Regions from separate parts of the Homo sapiens genome. Here region 2 is linked to region 1. The links come from fine-mapping of genetic effects on gene expression. A gene starts in region 1. The other region holds a variant in brackets. All regions are shown on one strand. Distances are from middle to middle.

The links. PIP is the estimated chance that this variant, and not a neighbour inherited with it, causes the effect.
Region 2: its variant is fine-mapped to the expression of DOK2 in whole blood (TOPMed, PIP 0.90).

The regions. Positions count from the first base shown.
Region 1 is chr8:21,912,195-21,915,106 of GRCh38, reverse strand. DOK2 (docking protein 2) reads left to right here and starts at 1,417. Exons shown (of 5, transcript NM_003974.4): 1 at 1,417-1,568; 2 at 2,597-2,878. The coding sequence starts at 1,506.
Region 2 is chr8:21,964,848-21,967,759 of GRCh38, reverse strand. XPO7 (exportin 7) reads right to left here. Exons shown (of 28, transcript NM_015024.5): 2 at 757-903. Among named protein-coding and RNA genes, the nearest start is that of XPO7, 47 kb to the right of the region's middle. The variant C/T (reference allele first, on the strand shown) is at 1,539.

The DNA of each region.
Region 1 (2,912 bases):
GCTTTGGATCAACCTCTTCAAACCCAGGCATCACGGCTGAGGGCAGTGAGTTTGAAGTGACTCATCCTTGTCCTCACAGAGCTCATGACATTCATTTTTTTCAAGCTTATTTGGTCCAGTCCATGGCATGTACAGCAGAAGGCCTAAGCTGTGCACGGTGCTGCTCGCTCCTTGCCACGGTAACTGAACCCCTGTTGTAGAGGAAATGGGCCTGTTTATATAAGCACCTGTTATGGGATTAACCCCAAGAGTGTTGGTCTGAGTCTCAGTTTTTTCCAACCCTTCTGCACTGTGCCTCCATACAGATTGCTTCTCTAAACCATCTGGCTTTAAGTTAAACTTCTCTGAGCAGCTTGGATTTCCCCACAGCAATGGATCTTTTTGCATGGATCTGGATTCCATTTAGGGGCCCTGCAAAATGTTGAATTAAAGATCAGGAGCCCTGGTCTCTACTTCTTCCTCTGCCCCCAACTACCTCTGTGACCTCAGGCAAGTTGCAAATAAGTGTGTTCATACCTGCCCTGCCTTTGTCAAAGGATGGCGTGGCTGATGAAAAGTGTGTGCCTAGAAGCTTTGCGAGCTACGAAGCACTTTCGGTAACTCTGAACCATTTTCAAAATGTATATGAAAGTGATTGCTATTGAAACTTAAGATAATTTGCAGATGAAACCTAAGCATCTTTCTAATGCTCAGGAATGCTTGCAAGAAGGCAAAAATCCAACAGTTGAGATGTACTTGGGGAGTCAGTCCCTTCTCCAGAGGGGATGATCATCTTTCTAGAATCTTTACAGGGTTGGTGTGAGTGTGTGTTGTTGGCAGACAGGGAGTGCTCGCATGTAGTTAAACGGTTGCCTCTCTCTCTCTCTCTCTCTCTGTGTGTGTGTGTTTGTGAAACTGGTATCTGGTTAGGCCCACATGAGCTGTCTTATGTGTCTCTCTGTGCAGTGCCGTGTGTGTCATTCAGCTGTTAAGCGTTGAGAGACCTGGGTTCTGGTTTGGTGACCTTGAATAAATCCCTCAGACTTTCCAAGCCTGTTTCCTTATTTGTAACTTAGTGGTTTGTCCCTTCCAACTTGCGTACAGCTTGGAGGGGGGGGCCTTCACTACTGATTTCACTGTCTAGTTTGGTTTCTGGGTCTCTGTTCCAGTGGGCCAGCCACTCTTTGCTGGCGCCTCCCTGTGCCAACTTCTGTACCTGAATTGTTGCTCACTGAAGAGCTGGCATTTAGCTTTTTGGAAATTGTCTCTAACTCACTGGAAATGCAGGAAGCTTGAGTATAAAACTCACTCAGAAAAAAAAAAAAAAAAGAAAAAAAAGAACACACACTCAGAAGAAACCGCAGGGCCTATCAGCCTGTCGTCATCGAGCAGACTAGAATAGTATAGAAAACCCTAGGCAGAGAGGAAATGAACTTCAGAGAAGGGAAACACACGGCTAAGAAGAGAGAGGCAAGGGCAGGAGTGAAGGAGAGAGCTGAAGCCTGGGGCTCCGAGATGGTCAGAGGATGGGAGACGGGGCAGTGAAACAAGGCTTCTTGTATCTTCAGCAGCAGCAGACGTTTGGAAAGGTAGGAGTGAGGCTGGGCTGGGGTTGGGCAGGGGGCCTGGGAGGCTGCTAGAATTCCTGGGTTGGAGAGGGAGTTTCATATTCAAAACCCTTATAGGTCTGACTGTGCACCCACCAAGTTAGACCCAGAGCTCAACTTTGGGAGGGCTCTTTTCCTACCCGACGCTGTCTCCTGAACCAGGCCCCAACCAGGTCCCAAACTGTGCTCCTTACTGAGGGCTGTTTGCCCTGGGTGGGGGTGGGGGATGTGCTGCTTTCATCTCTTGCCTCTTTTGCTCTCTTGCTCTATGTTGACTTCTTTTCACCGGACACCTTGGAAGGGAATGGAAGGGGCAGCTGGAGGGACAGTTTAGGATGACAATAGAGGTTCCTTCCCAACCCCAGTGGGGTGCATGTGGCTGGTGTTCAGCTTGGGCTGGGGCCTCTGGGGGCCTGGACCCCAGCCGGCTGTCCATCCTCTTTCCCCTTCCCTGGCCTCCTTGAACCAGGAAGTCCTCGTCCCCTAACCAACACTGGGGGGCACACCTGTCTCTCTCTCATGGCCCAACCTATCAAGGAATGAGGCAGCAAGGTTCAGGAGGGTGGAGAGAAGTTCTCCTTCAGGATTTCGCACAGAAGGAGAATGAGGTCTCCAGCCCGGGTCACACGCCGCCCTCCTCACTCCCTCCTCTGGGCCTCGGCCACTGCCCCGCTTTCCTCCCCAGACTGGAGTCCACTGCGGTGGGCCTGTTTGGCCTTCTTGCAGCCTGCTTTGGGCTCATCCCGGCGTTGCTTTCTGCCTGGGCAGTCTCTGCTCTTGCTCGTGGGCCTCCTTCTCGGGGCTGGCGGCTGATCTCCGATTTTCTAATTCCTGCAGTCACTGTCCTCTTCTCTGCCTCCCTGGGTCTCATGTGATCTTCACCTCTCTCTCCCCATCTCCAAGTGGCTGCCCCAGTCCCCCTCCCACGGTTCCTCTTCTCCCCTTGGCTCACGATCTCCCCGTCTCTGGGTGGCTCCCTCCCGCCCCCGCCTCCCACGCCTCTGGCACAGAAATGGCGCCGCTTCGGCGCCTCACTGTATGGAGGGTCGGACTGCGCCTTGGCCCGGCTGGAGCTGCAGGAGGGCCCGGAGAAGCCTCGTCGGTGTGAGGCTGCCCGGAAGGTCATCCGCCTCAGTGACTGCCTGCGGGTGGCCGAGGCCGGCGGAGAGGCCAGCAGCCCCCGGGACACCAGTGCCTTCTTCCTGGAGACCAAGGAGCGCCTGTACCTCCTGGCGGCCCCTGCAGCGGAGCGCGGCGACTGGGTGCAGGCCATCTGCCTCCTGGCCTTCCCCGTGAGTCGCGCGGGGTGCGGAAAGGGCAAGGGGG
Region 2 (2,912 bases), 53 kb before region 1:
TTCATTGTCAAGGTCACTGTTCCTGGATTTGTAAGGCAATAAACAGCAGCTGTGGCAGAGAGGACACAAAACACAGAGAAGACTGAGGATCTTGTACTAGGACTTTGGATTAAAAAGGTCATTTATTGGCCGGGTGTGGTGGCTCACGTCTGTAATCCCATCACTTTGGGAGGCCGAGGCGGGTGGATCACCTGAGGTCAGGAGATCGAGACCAGCCTGACCAACACGGAGAAACCCCGTCTCTACTAAAAAAAATACAAAATTAGCCAAGCTTGGTGGTGCATGCCTGTGATCCCAGCTACTCGGGAGGCTGAGGCAGGAGAATCACTTGAACCCGGGAGGTGGAGGTTGCAGTGAGCCAAGATCACGCCATTGCACTCCAGCCTGGGCAACAAGAGCGAAACTCCGTCTCAAAAATAAATAAATAAACAAACACAAAGGTCATTTATCTACAGTCCTATCTTATTCTGGAAAGGACAGGATGTGGCACTTAAATGTAAAAGCAGAAAACAAGTTCTGGAAATTTAGGATGAAAAATTACAGAACAGAAATGCATGTTCAAAGAGATTTTCTTGATGAGACTGTATGGCTGTTTTGCCAACCTGGTAGGTATGGTACTTCTTAAAAGTGAAAATAAGTCAGGGACACCTAGAAAAATCAGGGAACAGAAGCCATCCCATGCCATTCCTACACAGAGAACCAGAATAACGTTTCCGAAGCGCCTGTTATCCTTTAGGATTTTCAGATCTTACGCACACTTCCTCTTTCGAGGAGTAGCTGGCACTTGCTCAGGCAATCAGGGCTGTTGGTAAATTCAACCAAGGCTTTCTCTGCCTGGAGTCGAGTGGTTGTGTCTGTGGTTTCATACAGCTGTTTGCACAGATTCTCTAGTTGGGCCAGGCTCTGGAAAAGATCAGTCAGGAAAGAAAACAGTTCAGCCTACTACAAATGTAAGCAACTGTGCTTAAAATTAATAAACAAAGATAAATAATAATCAGTAAAGAAAGAATTGCTTCTGAACTGAGGAGAACCTGGGTAACATTCACCTAATAACCATTTATAGGTCTCTTTATTTGATGCTATAGAAGACAAAATGGTAAGATGCTTAGAATACCTATATAACTTTTTCATCATTCCCTTGAGGATCAATCATACATGATACATTTTTCCGCTTGCAAATACCCAGCCTCCTAAGCTTTCCTAAAAGGCTTTGAAATAAAAATTCAAAATTTACTTATTCTGCTATTAATGTAAAAAGTGTGAAATACCAGAGGCACGGCTACTAAAATTAAGCACATAAACATGATATAAGTACCACACACATTTTCATATAGCTTTAAATATTCCTTTGAGTAGTAGTTATTAGCTTACAATAATGTATATGCGTAAAGATGGTCACCTGTACGAGAAAACCTCTAGAGAAAGCTTCAAGATGTATTTACGCACCTTCCTCCCTGGATCCCTCATGTCTAAAGTTCAGCAGACTCTCTTCTGTTGCACTTTAAACTCTTACTTTGGTTCCAAATTTAAAATGAAAG[C/T]GTCAAAATAAATTCAACCCTAGCATATGCTCACTCACAGATAAGACAAGGGAAACACCCACAAGCAAACTCTTCTCTCCAAATCTTGAACCAGTTCCAGGGAGGCAGGAAGGGGTATGGGTGTGTGCTTTGGTCAAAAACCCATAGGGAGGCATATATACTTGCACTTAATGTGGTGTTTAAAGGCAAAGAGGAAAGTAACTAATTAAGACTATACTTCAATATCACCTTTCACTGACTGGAGAGTAAACATCTGTTAGCCTTTAAAGGAATGGTTTGGACTTTAAGAAAAAATTGGAGCCTATTTTCACCAGCAGCAAGGATAGTTTGAGGGATCCTACTATTAGAAAGGACAATTCTGACAAGAACAAAAATAATAATAATTAAACCAACCTGTGTAAATTGCCTAAAATATATTACACAGCCAGTCTGCCCAAGGCTTTTCATTATCACTTTATTTCATTACACTGTGTCTTTATAAATCACAGCTTTTCCACTAAGTAGGAAAGCCTTTGGGGCAGGATTCATATTTTACTCAACCTGATTAATAAATTTCCAACACTAACTGAAAGGAAACAAGAACGATGAATACTGACGCCCTAAGATCATCAGTCCTACTTCAGACAGCCCCCAAAAGAACAAAACAACAACCTTGCCCTTAAAACGAAACAAACCATCTTTCACAACATCTTGGGACTTTGATTAGGCTTATGTTTAACTTGTTTCTGACTTCCAGGGGTCCCACTTAATCTCTTCTTCAATTCAAAAGCACAGAGAAAATCGCAATTGCAAAGTCAGATCTCAAGCAATAAAGTTCTATAAGTAGTACCTGAGTTTATTCACATGGCTTATGAACACAAGTAGAAAATAAGGCTAATTACATACATTCCATAAAATACATGCAAAAGCCATTTTTATGCTTGCCAGTACTGCTCAAGACCTTATTGAGAATTGAATCAGTTTAATTATAACCACTCACATTCCTAAACAAGGCATTAAATCTCCTTCACAAGGTTTTGTTTCAACATTGAAATCTATTTCCCCCCTCCTACAAAATGATTCCCTTAAAAAAAAAAAAAGAAAAAAATTATTTAGGAAAATAGGTAACAAGAAAGACATCAAGAGAAAGACACTGTTTAACTAAAACGTAAGCTGCTATAAAACCTGGCATCAGGTATTGGGGAGCAGCAGCAGCCTCAGAACCTCCACAGCCATCACACACTTTGAGCTTTCCAACATCCTGAACAGACACTCCCTGAACAGTCCTGATGCTTATGGTATAATGGCTCTCCTTAAAGTCTGATCAATCAGTTCCTGTGGTTCCCCCACTGCAACTCTTGTTTATGTTTATTACAACAAAGTTGTTCACATGAC